Regions from separate parts of the Homo sapiens genome. Here region 2 is linked to region 1. The links come from fine-mapping of genetic effects on gene expression. Tissue or cell type: blood mononuclear cells. Region 1 holds a variant in brackets; the other region holds the start of a gene. All regions are shown on one strand. Distances are between the middles of the regions.

Region 1 (10,508 bases):
CATGAGCAACTTTCTAGATTGTTGTTAAATTTTACAAAAAAAAAAACCCAAAAAACGATGAAGCTAAATTATCACAGCAAATGTCTGAAATCTACACCCAAACCTGGCGTTTTGCTCAGATTCTAAGACTGTGTGAGACCTTTGCAGTAACTCCTTCCTCTTTTCCCCCTCATAGTCACTTTATTGTATTTTTAATGTTTTATTTTTATGGACAAAATTGTATATATTTATAATGTACAACATTATGTTTTGAAATATATATGCATTGTGGCATGGCTAAATCAAGCTAATAAATATATGCATTACCTCACATATTTATCATTTTTATGGTAAGAACACTTAAAACCCACTCTTAGCACTTTTCAAGAATACAATATGTTAATAACTATAGTCATCATGTTTTATAACAGATCTCTTGAATTTATTCCTCCTAACTTGTTTTGTATCCTTTGACCAACATCTCCCAAACCTCCCTCCGTTCCCACCACCCCAGCCCCTGGTAACCACCATTCTACTCTCTACTTCTATGAAATCAGCTTTTTAAAGATTCTACATGAAAGTAAGATCATGTGGTATTTGTCTTTCTGTGCCTGGCTTATTTCACTAAACATAATGTCCTCCAGGTTCATCCATGTTGTCGTGAATGACAGGATCTTATTCTTTTTATGGCTATATAGTATTCTATTGTATATATAGACTGCATTTTCTTTATCCATTCATCCATAGATAAACACTTCGGTTGATCCATGTCTTGGCTATTGTGAATAGTGCTGCTATGAACACAGGAGTTCAGATACTGATTTCATTTTTTTTGGACATATGCCCAGTTGGATTGTTGGATCATATGGTAGTTCTATTTTTAATTTTCTGAGGAGCCACAATACTACTTTCCATAATTGCTGTACTACTTTACATTCTCACCAACAGTGAACAAGTGTTCTCTTTTCTCCACATCCTTGCCAATACTTCCTACCTTTCATCTTTTTGATAATAGTCATTCTAACAGGTGTGAGGTGATATCTCACTGTGGTTTTAATTTACATTTCCCTGATGATTAGTATGTTGAGCACTTTTTCATATATCTGTTGCCCATTTGTATGTCTTCTTCTGAAAAATGTCTATTCAGGTGCTTTGCCCATTTTTTTATTTGGGCTGTCTTCTTGTTATTGAGTTGTTTCAGTTCCTTATATATTTTGGATATTAACCATTTATCAAATGTATGGTTTGCCAATATTTTCTCCCATTCCAAATAACCCTTTCCTCTTTATAAATCCTTACCACTATAGCCTTTGAAAGACAACTCAAAACTCACCTCCTCCAGGAAGCCCTCCTTGATTAATTACCTTGATCTCACACATTTTTATTCTTCCTTTACTCTGATCCTTCAACACTTACATATTTAGTCTAAATTGGCTTTTAGGTTTCCCTTTGTATCTCCCAATAAGTACAGTAAGACAGGAATATAGGGGGCAATTAACCAACAGACATCAATAAATATTTATCAAACATTTATTATATTTAGTTATCCAGCCAATAGAAATTCATTTGGTGCTGTATTGAGTCCAATTTTTCTGCTTTCCCAGGTTTGCCTGCCCCTCTCCACACTGTTCCTCTGGCTGCTTGCTCAGTGTAAAGTCCCTGCCACAGCCACCATCTTCTCTCCCAACACCATCAGCTGTCTCAGCCTCTCTGTAGCTGATGGCTCTGACTCAGCCTCTGTCATGTCCACACTGCAGCAGGAGCTACACCCCTGCACCCTCATCCTGTGTAGCTGCTATTATAGAGACTCTGGCTTCTTGAACCACTTCTACATTCCAACGAAGCACCCTGCTGTGGGGTATAGGATCTGGCTTTCCCAGAGGCTGATCAGAGGGTCATGGTAACATAATCTGAAAACAGGAACTTAAAACTTAATGCGGAAACCTTGACCAGTAAGAGACAGGAGACAAGAAGGAGCTAAAAGATCAATTCCTTGCCATTCCTTCTTGTGACAGACTGTTGCAAAGTACAGTGTGATCCCAAAGACCTGTCTGCAAGACAGTGTGTGTCACAGAGCAACCAGCTGTATTTCCTTGAGAAGCTTTGGACAGCTTGGCAAAGCACTGTTAGGTATTATTTGTCTGGCTTCCCCCGTTCCCTCACTATTTTTGTCCTGGAATTCCATCTCCTCATAAAACCTTCTCAAGTGAGCTCAGATTCTGTTTTCTAGGGAACCCAGGCTAAGACAATTATCTACATAAACTCTCCACTCTACATTAGACTAGCCCTGAGAAAGGGTACAAAAGAGGCATAAAAGAAGTGAATCCTGTCCACAACAACCTCACAATCTAACTGGGGAGGCCAGACTCTACCTATGTAACAATAAGTGAAAAAGACAAAGGAATGAATGAATGTAATTAGAGGGCAAATTGTTCAGTGTTTTAGAAAATGGGAGCCATTTGATACCACTCAGTGTACAGGGCCCAGAATAAAACAAAAAGTATTCACAGAGAAGAGGAAAACCATCAGATCTCACCCACGGCAGACTGCTAGGAAGAGGGGCTTAAAAAAACGCTGGGAAGACAGAGAAGGGGGGAAGACTGCAGGGAGTGTGTTCCCTGGAGAAGAGTCACCTTGGTGAAGCCAGCACAACCACAACAGTGGGCGTGGTAAGGAGAAGCAGGGAGAGCCTGAAGGACATTGGGTTTCCCTGAACAGAGGGGCTTGCTGGGGAGCAGCAGGGTGAGTCCAGGGTTCATAGCAGAGGGCTGTGGAGGCAAGACAGAGGGGTTTGGAGGTGAAGGGCATTTGCTACTCCTCATATTACCACAGAAGAGATGAAAAAGAAAAAAAATACTCCATTTCTTAGGAGGTTGCAGTATAATATTCCCAGCTTCTCCCACACCCTCCATCACACCTGTGAGCCAACAGCACAAGGAATCTGGGGGAAGAAACAAGGTCTTCTTGGCCCTGAGCCTTCTGGTTTCCCTTTCATATCTGCCATCTGACAACAGGGGTACCTTTCCTTGGCAGGCCTGCCTGTGTGAGCAACAGCCTGCGGTGGGACCTTGAGGGTGACAATGTCTAATGGAGAAGGAGGTACCTGGAAGCCCTGTGGCCGCACGTCTAATCACTTCCCCAGTCAGCCTGAACTATAATCAAGCTGGCACTTCTCCTTCAATCTGGTTTTTGTGTCGTCTTTCTCAAATGGTGCAAACTTGGGAGGGAGGACAGGAACATTATTTAATGACTTCCTAAAACATCAAAAGGGGGCTTAGATCTGATGCAATGAGAAATGGGCATGGCAGGAAAGAAGCATGATAAAAAGAGATAATAAATGCTTCTTGATTAAATGGTTGGCCTACATCCTAATTTCTACCCATAAAAAGGAGAAGAAGGCCGGGCGCAGTGGCTCATGCCTGTATCCCAGCACTTTGGGAGGCCAAGGTGGGTGGATCATCTGAGGTCAGGAGTTTGAGACCAGCCTGGCCAACATGGCAAAACCCTGCCTCTACTAAAAATACAAAAAATTAGCCGGGCATGGTGGCAGGCACCTGTAATCCCAGCTACTTGGGAGGCTGAGGCAGGACAGTCACTAGAACACAGGAGATGGAGGTTGCAGTGAGCTGATATCACGCCATTGCGCTCCAGCCTGGGCAGCAAGAGCAAAACTCCCTCTCAAAAAACAAACAAAAAAACAAAACCAAAAAGGAGATGAGAGGGCTCCGTGGTTTCCACATGGTTGCTCTTATGTAGTTATTTTTACCCTCCAGTGTTTTTCACAGTGGCCCTCTCTGGCTTTATTTCTGTCATGAAGTTCCCTTTTCCTCTGAGAGATGCTGCAAACATTTCAGAAACATTTCACTTGCTTCTTCCAGTCCAGAAGAGTGATTCTTCCATGACAGAACGGGCCAGCTGCTGATGTGAGCCCATCCCTCCAGATCAGCATGACTAAGATATTCATCTTCATGGAGCAAGAATAACTACAGGAGATTTGAATGCTGCATTTGCTTTAAATAAAACTGCAGATGCAATTCCAGGAGTAGGATAGAGACAGCAGAAAAACAGCACATTTCTTTTATAGTATCATAGTGTCTATTTTAATCAGCATATTACAGATGTTTTGAGACATTCTAGCAAAATTGACATGGTTGACAACGCTAGACAGAACTGCCTCACGGGGGAAAAGAGGAAAAGATTAAACCACAGGCGTGTGGCAAAGGAACCTGCTTTGTCAGAACTATGCTTTGTCATCACCGCTGAGATCAGAGAGCTGTTTCTATGGCAGCAGGCAACATGTTCTGGCCAGGAGACAATCATGTAGGGATTTTTAATTTCATTTGATGTCTAATTGCCTACTACTTCGGGAAAGAGACAAATAATTAAAAAAAAAAAGTCTTCCTTAACTAGACAGACTAATACCCCCAAGGAAAAACTTGGGTTTTTATAGTATGCTTTTCAAGATTTGAATTTCATGTCTGTATAGTTGAAGGCATGGGACCTTCTCCAACAAGGCAGAATGAAACCAGTAAAAAGGAAAGGAAACTCAGATGAAATTTCCATCACTGCAGAGCAGTTCACACATCCTGTTAATTACTATTGCCATTCATAATTAAGGGAGGTTCCTCATGGATCTTACTAACCCTTCTATCAAACAGCACCTACTCTTGCAAACCATTGGAAGAGGTTGTGCTATTTATGACAGGTCCCTCCCATTTCAGATCCATGCTGTTCATTTCCCTGAGCAATTAACGGACATTACAAACACATATTCTCCAGAGAGATTCCTAGTTTGGGAACATCACTTTTCAGATGTTGCTACTGTTGTCACTGACCATTTATTTCAATGTTTTCCATCTTCCCTTAAAGAGTAAGTGATTGAATGTCTCATGATTCTCTGCTTTTGCAACATAACACGCTTCCCTCCATTTGATCAAATAATACTGGTGCTTCTAAGGATCCTTTAAGCTAATAGCCAACAGTAGCCTATTTTAATTGCTATGGAGATGTCTTAGTTTGTTTGAAGCTGTTATAACAGAAAACCTGAGACTGGGTAACTTATAAGGACAGAAATTTATTGGCTCACAATTCTGGAGTCTGAGAAGTCCAGTATCAAGGTGCAGACATCTGGTGACGACCTTGTAGTTGCGTCATCCCATGGCAAAAGGCAGAAGGACAAGAGAGAGCAAGAGAGACACAGGGAAGGGGGCCAAACTCATCCTTTTATAATAACAACAATCCTACCTATAAGGGTGGAGCCCTCATGGCCTAATCATCTCTCAACAGTCCCACCTCTTCATACTGTTACAAAGGCAATTAAATTTCAACGCGAATTTTGGAGGGGACAAACATCCTAACCCTAGCGAAAGAAAACAAATAATTTTCTGGTAACTGAGGTAAATATTCCAGCAATTTGATTGGGAGTTCATGTCATAATGAGCTATAATTTTTTCTTTTTAATTCAGATGTCCAGAACTCAACTTCTAAATCTCTGGACACTAGGCAGATGGCTCTTTCTTTTCTTTTCTTTTCTCTGCTCTTCTCTTTCTTTCTTTTTCACTCTCTTTCTTTTTTCTTTTGCAAGTTACAGAGGTGACACTGGTGTTAATACCTGGTTAAATACCACTCACGGACAGTCACTCATTGCCCAGCTTTCCAATACTATGGCAGCCCTTAAGCTGCAATGAATTAACAATTTGTACACAAAGTGGGCAACAATTCTCAATATCACAAACCAAACTGCAACCTTTTAGCCATTTAGCACTGAAAGTTGCTATCACTAACACTGAACCAATGGGATGCACCCTGACTTCAGCAGAAGAATAAAAGCATGGAGCTCTGGAAACCCCTCTGCTCTTACA[T/A]CATGCCCACAGAAGCAACACCTGTGACACGCAGACCAAGAAATGACTTCTAGGTGACCAGGAGCCGTGTGGTCACTCAATTCCTTGAGTCATGGCTACCACAGGTCTGCATTTCTGTGGTCTTCCCCACAGTTCAAGGCCAGTGCAAAAGGACTTGCTGACTTGTATTTCTGGAGATTCTCTCCAGAAATTGGTAGAGATTCTCTCACCAAACAAAAGATTTCTGTGCTTCTATGAAGCACACAATATCAAAGCATCTATTGAGAAGAAAGACAAGTCCACTCACAGAATAATATGCAGGAGGGCATCTCCAGGGACACCAATCACGGCTAGGATCTTAGGACAAATGTTTTCCTGAAGAGCATAATAATAGATGGGACAAACGATGACATTCTGACTTGAAGTGGTCAGCACCACAGCCTGCCTGTGAAAGCAGCATTGGCCTGACCACACACTGGCTGGGAAGGGAGAGGTCTTTTATCTGGTATACATATTATACACACACACACACACACACACACACACACACACACACACGCACTGAAAGTTGCTATCACTAAGTATATATATATTCACCCATGTGTGAACAATTATTGAGCACGTAAGCACTTAGAAAATACACACCATCCTCATTTTCAAGTTATAATGAAGGCCCATACTTAACATGATTGATTAAAATGGTTTGATATAATTTCAACATTTTAATACAACTGTGTGGATTTTTTTCTGGCTTATTTTATAGCATAAACATTTATTTGACCATCAGTGTATAGGCTTTTGAATATGACACAAGTAACAAGTCTAATAACATCATGCCACATAAATATTCTGGGGAAAAAAATCTGCTCAAAATTTGAAAAATCGAGTGTTTCAGGAATGACTCTTCCCTACCCATAACTTCCAAAAATATCCCCTAGTCCTTCTGATATTGAGAGGCACTAACAGGATATATGTATACTTAACTAGTTTCACACACACACACAAAAAATCACCGTATGTCCGCTCTGGTTAGGGCTTATCGTATGTATTTCCTTTCATTGCCATCTGATTCATTGCTTCATCTTTTCTTTAAGTAAAAGGAGTGCCCTCATCCCCGTAACTGTTCTTAGAAGATAACGTTAGTCATTGTATTCCTACAATATGCTTCTCATCTGGCAGTTAATTTCCCCAGAGGGTACTGCAGACGTTTTATTTTCAGATAATCTCCAATTAGCTTCCTCTCTTCGTTACCCTGACCAGCTCACTTTCATAATTTTCTCCTATACATCCTCCTCCTCTTAACATATTTCTTACTTCACAGGGAAGAATATGATTTATATTGCTTTTCATTTACCTCACTTCTTTCCTGTTTACCTGCTTGCTACAGATTTTGCATTTTAATATCCAAAATCCAACATAAAATAAAGCTGCATGTTTCATCAAATGTTGCTCTTCCCATCTGAGCTCACTTTGCATTCAGTCCTTTTCTTCATGAGTTTGGCAGTATATATAGAGTTTGAGGTATATATTATATGTACTCACAAACAGGCATGCTTAAGCCATACAAAAGTGGGAGCTCACCCAGGTGCTCTCATTTCAAAGGCACTTCTTTTCTCTCAGAAAGTTACATGTCTCCACTTTCGTGTCCACACACAAAATTCCTTTATCCAAGATAAAAACTTTTAATGTCAAAACTAGAGATATAGTTTAAAGCAGAACAGGTAAATAAATAACTTAAATTTTCACTAGTGGATGAAAGTTGGATTCTTTCTTGAGAACAGGTTTTGATGTCGGGGTGAGGGTGTCCAGTAGGCATTAAGTCTGTCCAGGTGCACCTCAGAGAAGGGAAATGAGTGTATGTAAAAAGGAGAAACTGAGGCCACTGAATACACTTCACTTGGTTTTCCATTTTATGTACAACACAGTCATCTTCTAGTTATTTGGTAGCAAACCAAGAATTTACAAATTTAAGTACTTACAAATATTTTAGTTCCATCGTGTGTGTGTGTGTGTGTGTGTGTGTGTGTGTTTATTTTTAATTTTCAAGTATTTGAATCTACAAAAGAATATCCTTTCAGAACATCTGTACCCAGTTAAGGAATCTGGGAAAGAAAACAGAAGTGGACTGAAATGTGTTGGTCTTATCTTTGTCTGGCCTCTATGAATATCTTGACTGTCATCAAAAATATCTCTTTAGTAGATATTACTATAGAGATTCTGCTTTTCAGACACACACAAATCCTTGCAGACACTTGATGTCTGATGAGTGTCTCTTTTATGCATTTTGACTTCTGAGAAGGTCTCTATCCCCAAACAGTGAGCACTACTTTGCTAAAAAAAGTCTGTGTGTTCTGAATAAATGGAAACGTCTTACCAATATATGAATTGCTGATCTTTAAAGTAAATAAATAGGCGAATAGATTCTTATCCACATTTCTTCTAGCCACAAATTTTAAGGAAATCCTGCAGTCCTTTACAAGGGGGGGAGTTTCTCAGCTAGATGGAAAGATATGACGACAATTTCCCCATTCACAAAACATTTCCTGTCTCCGTAAGTACCCACTGCCCAATTACTCATTTTACACTTATTCTGTGTGAATTTACATTGTGACTTGGCATTTTTAGGCATCCGTGGTTCCTACTGATTTCCTCTGGTCCCCATTGGTTTCCTTTCTTAGGCTTTACTGAATCTCCCAAGGGCCAAAGTAGAAACCCAATTAATGCGTGCATAACCTAGATGGCTCATGCCCTTACTTTTACATTCTTTCCATTGCATGACACTGTCTTGGAGCTCTTTAAGGAAGCATCTTTCAAAATCTTGTGTGTGAGAGAGAGAAAAGACTCACAGAAGGAAATGTAGAATGGGAAGAAACTATTCATGAGGAATATCTCTTTAATATAGTAAGAGCATGTTGGTAGAAAAATAAAGACTGCTTGATAACTAAAGGTTAATAAAAACCACAACTGTTGGAAAGCAAAGACATAACTTCATTCCCCCACATACCCCAAAATAGCATACACAGAAAAGCAACTCTACATAGCCAGTTAAGAAGGATTAATTATGCCTCTACCATGAGCTCAACATTATGGTAGGTGCTTAGCGAAAAAAAGACTATAAGTGTAGATGTATATATGTGTGTGTATAAAACGTGTAAAACAATATAAAAGAATAATATCTTATGTTAGATGGAGTGGAATAGGCTGAAAGCATTAGGAGAGAAATTAGTGTGAGCCGGATATTAGTATATTTTAGCTAATTTGCAAAAACTCATCTTTGACTAGTCATGCTAAAGTATTGCCTATAATATCACATGCCATTTATCAATGTTTACATGTCTCATGATCATATATTCAAATGTTGATAATTATTCAATAATATAGACCATTGCAAGACTAAGTCACCCCCAATGAGAAATGTAATTCAAACCTGTAAACCTACTGAAAATGGACTGAAATAAAGAATGTGAATGCATTTTGTAGAAGGAAAAGTATTATTCATGAAGTAGATATTAGAATCATTATTACTATTGTCATCTTTCTCATAAGATTACTTGAAGAAAAAAAAGTACAAAGTTAAAATACAAAATGATGTCAATTCTGTTTATTAAATAAAAGAGGCAGGTATTGTTTTCCCTGTATTCCAGATAAGGAACTGAAGCTATTCAATCTACAACTTAAGAAAAATCAATTGGGTAGCAACCACTGACAGAGTAAATCATTTTGTTCTTCAATCATCTTGTATTTCTGACCAAACTGCACAGTTTATTTTGAGAACTCTGTGGTTTTAGTTTAGGATTTTAGGAGTCTAGAGAGACTTCTGACCTGCCCTGTGGAGATTAACGACATACTTAATTCTGTTTGTCTAACAGCAGGCAAAAGATCTGACTAGCAGAATGGCAGCAACCTTTTCCACTAAAACGAAGGTATGTTTATGGCATGCCACATACAGTGGAACAGTAGTCAAAATAGTCAAAACAGGTCTATTGGAAGTGGGGATTCCAACCTCCTCCACAGCAAAATACATTTCATTGATAACACCTCCTCCAAGAGCCACTTCACGAGTTCTTAGGTCAGAGTATGCTCCTCCCTTCTGTCTCTCTTCTCTAAGCTGCAATACCAGTCACACAGCCTTCAAGCTCTATGTTCCATTCTACAATAAATGTTTCAAATAAATTCCAACATGACTTAATGTTCTAAGCTTAAAATGCCATGTTATAGTAGCTAACATTTATTTAGTGCTATATGCCAGGCAGTGCAGTAAACACTTTACATGGATTATCTTATTTCATCAACTGTTTTGGGAGGTGGGACTATTATTACCCCATTTTCACACATTAAAAAAACAATGCCAAAGAAACTAAAAATCTTGCTGAAGGTCACCCAGCTAAGTCACTTACTGAATACTCACTTACTGTATCCCTTTGGCCCAAGCTCTTTTATGTATATGAAATCTTTCAAACAAACTGAGACGCAGAGTGTGTAATATAAAATACATCACCCAACTTTGACAAGTACACTTAAAGTAAAAGATACAGGTCATCCTTTACATAAAGATACATTTTAAAGTATAATGGGGTTTCTCAATCAAAAAGAAAAGGGCAATAGGAAGCTGAGGACTGAAGTGAATCTACACCCCCATAAAGAAAGTCCTACTAAGAACAGTGCCAGGCATTGAGAAGGTGCTTAATA
Region 2 (10,041 bases), 110 kb after region 1:
GCAAAAATTACAAAACAAAGATGACCAACAAAATCAATAAGTTTAATTGCCCCCAAATCACAACACTAGTAAATGCAAGGTAAGTGTTTTGAGAGTACATTCAGCCAGAAGTTAGATGGCAAAAACACAGGAAGAAGAATGTAAAGTGAGATGCTATCATCAACTGAAAAAAGAGCAAGGAAGAATAGAGGTAGTATAAATACAATGGAGGTACGAATAAAACAAAACGGAGAGGCTGGGACCAAACACTTAGAGAAGGGAATGGAGTTTTAACTAGAGGAATTAAGGGAATTGTTAGATGGAGACCCAGCTAAGGATGGAAAGAATGAATTTACAGAGTATGTCACTTAATTATTAATATAACAGTCAAAAGGGTGACAACAGTCTGAAGGTAACAGTACTGAGGAGAGCAAAGATCACCTGGTGGCCATCGAGCAGACCATCCAGAGGGAAAGCTCCTTATCTGAGGAATTCAGAAACAATTAGACTTCTCTATTAGCTAAAGCCGGCATCTGGTACCAGGATTCTTTCCCAGAAATTTATAAGTAACTAGAATCTCTATACATGTCCAGAATGTATGCATGTCGAAACTCACTGTGCAACTTTTGCTGATATCAAAGCACCAAAATGTCTATAAATGTAATCACTGATCATGACCTACGTGGCTAATATGGTCCAAGTTACCCTTCAGCTTCTGCTTTAAGGTCCATAAATACCCCTAAGAAAAAATCCACTGCGGTGAGCTGTCCTCTCTTGCTGAGGCGCCTGGCTGCACTCTTCTGCAGCACTCTTTCTATCCAATAAAACTTTCCTTTTCAAACCTACGGTGTTGTCGGTAAATTTTTCTTACTACCCTACTACCCCAAGCTGACCACTTTCTGATGCTGGGGCTCTGACACCTCACCCAGCAAGTACTAGTGTGGGGAAGAGGGCCACTCTGAACACTTTGAAAGTAAGGGAAAAAAGAGAAAACAACAAAACACAGGACTTGACAGCCAAGAATGGGGTAAAGAGAGGGAAGTGTTAAGAGAGCTCTAAGGTTTTAAATCTGAAAAATACGGAGAGTGCCATTTGCGAATATGAGAAAACTGTGAAGGGGACAATTTAATAGGAGAGAAAAACACATTTTCTTTTGGATTCACAGGATGAAGTAACAGTGGGACATTCAAATGGAAATGTACACAGACTGTGGATTTACTTGTGGAATTACCAGCATAGTGGCAGCAGAAACCACAACATTAGACGTATTTACCAGATGATAGTTTACAGTAATAATACATGACTATTTTGGGATCAGGCAACCTGAGTAAAGCTTTTCTTCCTTGAAAAATGTGTATTTGCAATACAAACTATATTTTCCATAATATTTCAGGATATTCACATGCCCACTGAAGTATATTTGGGTTTCAAACACGAAACTCTGGTTTAGGGAGAGCGACAGGGGTAGAGCCTTGAGTGCCACCCAGAGCTAGGAAGAGGAAGAAAAGACTCTAAAGGAAACAAAACAGGAGAAAAGCCACCCTGAAAAAATCAGGACACTGAAAACCAAGACAGGACCAAATTTTTTCAAGTAATGGATAATGAACAGAATAAAATACTTGAGTACTGCAGAGAAAGATAAGAACTAAGAAATGACTGGCCAGGTGCGGTGGCTCAGGCCTGAAATCCCAGCACTTTGGGAGGCCGAGGCGGGCGGATCACCTGAGGCCAGGAGTTTGAGAGCAGCCTGGCCAACATGGGGAAACCCGTCTCTACTTAAAAAAATTAGCCGGGTGTGGTTGCGCACGCCTGTAAATCCCAGCTACTCGGGAGGCTGAAGCAAGAGAATCGTTTGAACCTTGCAGTGAGTCGAGATCGCACCAAGGCACTCCAGCCTGGGCGACAGAGAGAGACTCCCAACAACAACAAAAAATGGCAGGACAGGAAGGTGTCTATGGCTCAGCATTCTAACTCTGACCTTTTTACAAATATATATTCCATGAGTGAAGCAATATGCAGCTTCAGCACAACCCCTCTAACTGGGGTAAAAAAAAACAACTCAAAGTACAGGCTGTTCTTGTAACAACTTTGCATGTGAAACAAGTGAATAGCTAAACTAGTGAAACTGGCCCTTTCATTCAACATCACTCATTAAAAGGGCGTTTACAAGATTTTAATTTAGTCCTGATATAGAAATAAAAAAAGAGATCAACATTAAGAAAAAGTTGATTATAATTACGAAATAAAAACATGTTCTTATATTGAAAGGACAACTAATTTGCATAAGCAATTTAACAAAATAGCTAAAATGGGCTTGATACAACTGCCTCACAAGGCATAAGCTCTTAATGTTTCACTGTTTAACAGCATTTTCTTAATACACTGAAACATTTGTCATTTTTGAACTCTCAGAAATTAGGACTGCAGAACCAGGATACAACTGTTTTGGAATTGAAAACAGTATTTTAAGCAGGATTATATGATAGTCCCTTATGTCACAACTCTCCTGAGTTTTTCCTATGAGTCACCATTTTAAAGTTATCATTGTATTAGGCGTGGAAAGCAGGTTCCTTCCAGCACAATGATAGAAATGACACAGGGATAGGAAGCACTGCAACACAGTGATTCATACACCTTATCCACTTAAGCAACAGCGGTCAAGGATAGAATCAAATGTGGATGGGGTCAGAAAGAGATTACTGACAAAAAATATCAGGCAGTAGAATCACCAGGTGCACACTGACAGTCGAGAATGATGTAGACTAGGGAAACCCTCCTGAGAGTGACCAGTTAACTACTGGAGAACACTACAGTCCAGGGGAAGGCAGACAGACTCTGGAAAATTGAGGAGGGAGTCGTGGGGATGGGACAGGGGGAGCAGGGCGGGACCTGCGAAACCAAATACGGTTTGCGCTTCTGGGGCAGCAAAGCCCACGGGGGCGGAGGGCGCCGAGTACCAATGAGCTCCAGGACCTGCGGGCTCCTTCCAGCGCCAGCTCCTCCCCAAAGCCTGGCGTGTCCCCACCCTCTCGCTCGGGAAGTGCCCTCCAAAGAAAGAAAGGACGACCCGGAGCGCCGGACAAGGGTCCAGAACGATCAACCAGCCTCCTATCGTCCCGCCCCTGTCCCCTCGCGGCTACTTACCGGGATGCAGGCCGCAGTCACTAGGGCTGCAGCGGCGACTCGCTCGTTCCCGGCAATGACGTCCACTCCAACCGGCCTGCATCAGCTGAGCTTCCAACACAAACACTGGCGCAGCAGCTAGGTCGCCACCCACTCAGCCCCGCCCCGCTCCGCCCCCAGCGGAAGTGACGCGCTAGAAGTTTGGGTCTACCCGCGGGCCGGGGTGAGGATTTTCCGCCTCGCTCAGGCCTCTGCCTCCTTGTCAATCTCCGTTCCTCCCCCGCCCCGAGATATGCGCAATAGAGCATGACGGAGCGCAAGGCGGGAAGCCGCGACAGACGTGTGTGCGTGCGTGCGTGCGTGCGTGATGCGCGAGGCGTGGCTTGCTGGTGGGGCGTGCTGTGCCTTGGTTGGTTGCCGGGTGTGAGAGCGGTGGGACTTCGTTTTGCCTTCCTGGGCGGGACCTCGGAGCAGTGTCCTGGTTTGCTTGTTTGCGGGCCGCTATTCCCTTTCAGCAGAGATAAGCCTCCCTCTCCGCGTCCCTGAAGCCCCTGCCTGCGCTGAGTTCCTTGGAGCTGGGGGCTGCGATACCAGTCTCTTGGAGGGTGGTGCCCGGCGCGGCCGCGCCCCTTTCTCTATATCCATTCCTGGGCATGGCCACCCAGACTAAATGTCACTCAAAAGCGAGTTGACATATATTACTGTATTGGAAGTTAGCATAAACCGCCCCACAAATGGTCCCACACGTAACACATCTTTTTAAAATTGTGGCATTTCATACGTACCACAGGGGCAAACTACAGCCCTCAGGGCAAATCCAGCCCACCGCAGGTTCTGCTGTACTAGGAGCTAAAAATGGGTTTCACATTTTTCAAAGGTTAAAAAAAAAGTTTTGCGACAGATGACAATTATATGACATTCATATTTGTGTCTGCTTTTTAAAGTTTCATTAGAACATAGCTTTGCATTCCTATACATGCTGTTAATTAAAGCTTTTATACTACAATAGCGAATTTGGGTAGTTGCAATAGCCCCTTACCCTCTTGAAGTGACCTTGCAATTACGTTGAGGTCGGGAAAACAGATCAGTTTCAACTAGTTATCAACCTCAAAATGTTATCAAGACTTATACTGTACTCTCAAGGCTTACCCACTACCCATGGGTATGTATGCTTTAGCCCCCTGTAAGGTTATTGTAAAGTCCTTAAGGAAGGGGATTCTTTGACCTGTCAAATGTAGTGGATGTTACCCTGATAGTTGTGTTGTTTTGATTTTTTTAAATCAAGGAGGGAAAGCCAGCTTGCTATGTTCTTGGGACACAGTGTCTGGATTATGTACATCATAATGCCTGGTAAACCCCAGCAGTGGATAAGCCAGACATGTTATTTAGCTACAGGAGAGTTAAAAGATGTATGCACCAATTAAGCCTTACAGGCGTGTGGAAGGAGCTTTAGTTTTTGAGACAGATTCCTCCTTGTTGCTAAAGAAAAATTATTCTGACACTTGTTAAAATGTCAAGGAAGACATTTAGAACTATTGCAATAGGTGCCATGACTATCACCATGGGGGAGAGAGATTGGCCTCAAGTTTTAATACAACAAAAACAGCTAGGATTTATAACCAGCAAGCAGACTGAGGGGTCAGTTCATGGAAAATTACTAAGAAGTGATATCAAGGGTCGGGGATATTCTTGTTAAAGTGACTTACAAGATTCTTGCTGAAGACAGGCGGAGATGATCAATTATCAAGGCTAGGAGATACTCTCTAAACTGACTTTGCAAGATTCTTGCTAAAACTGGACTCAGCAGGCCTAAGACAGGGGCCCAAGGATGAGGCCTAGTTGGGAAGAGGGCTCAGAGGAGCCTAACTAAAGTATGGTCAAGGAGAGAGCACCACCATTCCCTCTCCGCTTATGCTCTTTCATCCCCTAATTTAGTCAGATGTTATTAAATATCCAGATTTTCCTCCCATGTCAGAAATTTTCAAATAACGCCCAATTCCTGCTTCTCCATTCTTATCCTTCCTCTCCCTCCCTTGTCTACCACCATACCTTTAATCAGTCATGAAGTCTGATGAGTTTTACCGCAGAATTTCTTGAATCGTTCCTCTGCTCCACATTCGCATTTCCACTGCTCTAGTTCAGGCTTTCATCCTTGCTCTTCAGTTTCATCTAAACTGGTTTTCCAGCCTGTAACTAACCTCTGACCCAGTCAGTCTCTTCTGTGCAACCACGGTAATCTTTTGAAAGTGCAAGTCCAATCGTGTTTTCCCGAATTAAAAAGCTTTTGCTGGCTGTACATCTTCACAGAATATACCGAATGAAATTATAGGTTCTGACCCTGCTGACCTTCCAGCCTTTACTTTCACCACTTGCCTCTCACTCTCTATCCTCCAGCCACACCTGTACTTCCCCAGATACTCTTGTTCCTTTTCATACTTAGTGCCTTGGTCATGCTGTTGGCTTAGCTCCCCTTCCACCTTGTCCTCCTAAAGATTTGTTTGTCCTTCAGCCAGGAAAATCTTACCTCACTACTCATAGAATGAATCATTCCTTCCACCTGTGCTCACTTCTCTTATTGCCCTTGCTGCACAGTATTATAATTTATTTGTTTATATGCCTGCCAGTTTCCTGCAGTCAAGGAGCGTAAGGTAAACTGTATTGTCTGGATCTAGCGTAACATCCAACAAATAGTAGACTCTCTAAAATTCTGTATTATTGAATTGATTTTTAGTTTCATTTAGATTACTAGTTTGATAAGTTAAAAATGGAAAATAAAACCCATTTATGATTCTTTTGATGTTGGGCAGTTTTGAGACAAAAGAGAATTATATTTAATTTCAAACAAATTCAGTAGTATGCAAAATTGGAGATTATCTTGTGTATAATAGCAGACTAATGCCTTCAGGAAATCATCTATACTTGAAATAATGCTAAATACAGTAATTGTTCAACGCTATATTCTTTGGAAGCTGGGTAAAAGAGACATCACATTGCCCTGTATCAGTTACTTGCTATGCTCATTCTATTTATAAGGTTTATTATTGATTTATCTATTTTAGCTCTTCTACATCCATAGTCACTCCTTTCTGGTCTGGTTCATAGCTTTTTAAAAGAGCTGCTAATATCTTTATTGTTCAAATAAAACTTAACATTATAACCAAAATAAATTAAGCCATATTGGTGCAAGATATCTCTCCAGATCACCTAAGGGAGGGATATGCCAGAAAATAATTCTAGAAGAATAATCACCATGGTAGGCTGAAGAATGGCCTTCTAAAAAATGCCCATGCCCAAATCCTTAGAACCTGTGAATATGCTACTTTACATGGCAAAGGGGACTTTTTGCAGATGTAATTAAGGGTACAGATTTTAAGAAAGGAAAATAATCCTGGATTATCTCTGTGGGCCCAATCTAATCACATAAATCCTTAAAATCAGTACAGATGTGGCAAAGCGAAAGTCAGAGAGATCAAGATAATGAGAGGAACAATTTGACAAGGAATGCAGGTTGCCATAGGGAACCAAGAGCGGCTCCTGACTGACAGCCAGCAAGGAAATGGAGACCTCAGCCACACAGCCGCAAGGAGTTGAATTCTGTCAACAACCTAAATAAAACTGAAAGCACACTCTTCCCCAGAGGTACCAGACAAAAGCTCAGGTAAGCTGACACCTTGATTTCACCCTTATGAGACCTGGAACAGAGGAACCAGTCAACTCTTGCTGGACTTCTGACCTACAGAACTGTGACATAATAAACTTGAGTTGTTTTAAGCCACTAAATTTGAAGTGTTTTGTTTCAGCAGCAATAGGAAATTAATATAATTATCTTTATATAGTTTGAAAACATGAAAGCAAGGATTTTCTGTTTTGATCCTTAGCACCAAGGCACAGCAATTATTAATAAAGTGTGGCCCGGAGCGTTGGCTCATGCCTGTAATCCCAGCACTGTGGGAGGCAGAGGCGGGTGGATCACCTGAGGTCAGGCGTTGGAGACCAGTCTGGCCAACATGGTGAAACCCCATCTCTGCTAAAAATACAAAAATTAGCTGGGCGTGGTGGCGGGCACCTATAATCCCAGCTACTCAGGAGGCTGAGGCAGGAGAATGGTTTGAACCCGGGAGGAGGAGGTTGCAGTGAGCCGAGATCGCGCCAATGCACTCCAGCCTGGGTAACAGGGTGAGGCTCCGTTTGAAAAAGAAAAAAAAAAAAGTTAATTGTTCAGTAACTATTTGGTGAGTGCATATTGAAAGAATTGAATTTATTCATTCAGCCATTATCTACTGAGTGCTTACTATGTGCCTGGCACCAAGCTATTTGCTGGAGGTAAAAAATTGAAGCACTGTCACGGAACTCAAAATATAACCTTAGGTAATAATACTATTAATGTAGAAAGAGCACTAATGGAGACATGAACTGGATATTATGAGTCTAGAGCAGGAATACCTACCCCAGCCTGTGGTGTTGGGAAGGAACTTCTGAACCAAGTCTTAAAAGATGTTGCTAGCAAGACAGATGGCAGTAGTGGAGTGGTAAAAGTGGGAAGAGAAAGGAGAGAGCTTTACAGAGAGAAGTGATGTTTGTAATAAAAGGCAATAAGGCAGGAAAAAACATAGTGCATGAAGGGAACTATGTGTTCCATGTTTGTACTGGAAATGTAATATAAGGATTGGGTGAGAGCTGAAGAACTTGGACCTGATCTTCTGGGTGATCAGAACCACTGTCAGATTCTAAGACAAAAGAATAACATGGTGGAATTTAAGTTTTAAGTACATTTTTTTGGTACCATGAGAGGGCAAGATTTGAAGAAGATGAGGAGTCCTGTTGTTGTCATATTTACTGTTTTCCTATTTAACCTTTTAATAAAAAAATCATTCTTTCTCCACCTTAAAAACTGCCTTAAAGAATTTGCCTATTTATACCTGCAGTTCAGGCCTCTCTATCAGGCTTGAGACCAGTTTATCCAGCTTCCTGCTGGGACATCTTAGAGGAACTAAACCAGTGGGAAATAAACCAGTTATATATAAGGTGATTTTCTGGGTGAAGAAAGAATAGTTTTATTAATAGACAGGTTATAGCTAAGGTTTTGGCACAAGAGTAGCAACATAAAATTAAGATATTAAGGACACATAATTGTATTTTCTCCAACTTACTTTTGAATCTGAGTTAGATTTTACCTTTTACCTAATACTTTTGTAGGTTATTCCATGCCTTGCTTATTTCTATGACAACTCATCCAGTTGAAAAGTTGGAATAAGTCTAAAAATGCCCCCATATTCAATTGCATGTTAATTTCTTTTCTTTCTTTCTTTTACTTTTTTTTTTTTTTTGAGTCAGAGTCTCACTCTGCCGCCCAGGCTGGAGTGCAGTGGCGCGATCTCGGCTCACTGCAACCTCCACCTCCCAGGTTCAAGCAATTCTCCTGCCTCAGCCTCCCAAGTAGCTGGGATTACAGGTGCTTGCCACCACGCCCAGCTAATTTTTGTATTTTTAGTAGAGACGGGGTTTCACCATGTTGGCCAGGCTGGTCTTGAACTCCTGACCTCAGGTGATCTGCCCGCCTCTGCCTCCCAAAGTGCTAGGATTACAGGTGTGGGCTACCACACCCGGCCTCTTTTACTTTTTTATTTGAGATGGAGTTTCGCTCTGTTGCCCAGGCTGAAGTGCTGTGGTGTGATCTTGGCTCACTGCAACCTCTGCCTCCCAGGTTCAAGTGATTCTCCTGCCTCAGCCTCCCAAGTAGCTGGGGTTACAGGCATGTGCCACCACTCCCGACTAATTTTTATATTTTTAGTAGAGACAGGGTTTCACCACGTTGGCCAGGGTGGTCTTGACCTCCTGACCTTGTGATCCGCCTGCCTCAGCCTCCCAAAGTGCTGGGATTACAGGCATGAGCCACTGTGCCCTGGCGCATGTTAGTTTCTTATAGGCAAGTATCAATGTTTGCATTGCTTAACTTCAGACTTAAGGCAAGGTTGGAGTCCTGTCCTCCCTCACCATTTACTGGTTGTGATACTGTGGGCAAATAATTCCCACAAGCCTCCCTTTTTTCATTAGTAAAATTTTCAGTATCCCAATTCAGTAATGTAAGTGCATTATGATCTATGGTCAGAGAATGAGGTACTGTGATCAAACAGCATGGTCAGACTACTCCAAACCCCTCAACAGGGTCCTAGTGTGAAAACAGCATCTCTCATAGAACCACAGAATTTGTTTTGGGGAAAAGTTGTTCACGGAAGGAGAGAAATACAGGGCAGAAAAACAAAAAGGCCAGGCAACACAGCAAGCAGATAAACACTGGTTGGAATGTATGAATGAACCAGTGCCTAAATGCGATGGAGCAAGTAGCACTTTTCCTTTAATGCCAATCTATAGTTTCAAAGAACTTAGAGGTTTGTTGGGGACCAACAATGTTTGGAAAGGACAGTGCCAGGGATGAACATGTGCTTTACTGTAGGCAATACTTAGATTCCAGTTCTAAGCTTTGCCACTTATTTGAACAAATTACCCAACTTTTAAGTCTCAGTTCCAAAAGCTGAAAAAGATATCATTTATGAGGACCTTTTCAAGGACATTTGGACTCAGTTTGAGACAGAATGTCTATTTTTTAAAAGGCAGCAATACTTGCTTATATTGTATCATAAAATCATTCAAGTATAGACGTTACAGCCTATGAATCAGAGTTATTATTTTATCACTCCCAAAACAATAGTGAGCAAGATTCATAACCTCTCTGACTCTTACTTTTCTCATCCAATAAATGGGCACACTAATACTCATAAGGTTTGTGGAGGATTAAATGAAATAATACATGTAAAATGCCTAGTATTTATAAAACATATTTCTTGTACACATTTAATGACCTGATTATTGTGTTAGTCTTTGAATATGCCCTAGTCAATAAAACAGATAGTCCTAGCCCTCGTGACCTACACAATTTTG

What was found. PIP is the estimated chance that this variant, and not a neighbour inherited with it, causes the effect.
Region 2: it holds the start of PNPLA8, and the variant in region 1 is fine-mapped to the expression of PNPLA8 in blood mononuclear cells (TOPMed, PIP above 0.99).

What each region holds. Positions count from the first base shown.
Region 1 is chr7:108,412,224-108,422,731 of GRCh38, forward strand. All of the region lies in intron 1 of NRCAM (neuronal cell adhesion molecule), which reads right to left. Among named protein-coding and RNA genes, the nearest start is that of NRCAM, 39 kb to the right of the region's middle. The variant T/A (reference allele first, on the strand shown) is at 5,841.
Region 2 is chr7:108,522,906-108,532,946 of GRCh38, forward strand. PNPLA8 (patatin like domain 8, phospholipase A2) reads right to left here and starts at 3,230. Exons shown (of 11, transcript NM_001256007.3): 1 at 3,124-3,230. LOC124901722 (a long non-coding RNA gene) reads left to right here and starts at 3,570. Exons shown (of 2, transcript XR_007060473.1): 1 at 3,570-4,740; 2 at 6,546-6,877. RefSeq lists enhancers at 1,152-1,687, 2,367-3,327, 3,099-3,218, 3,509-3,848.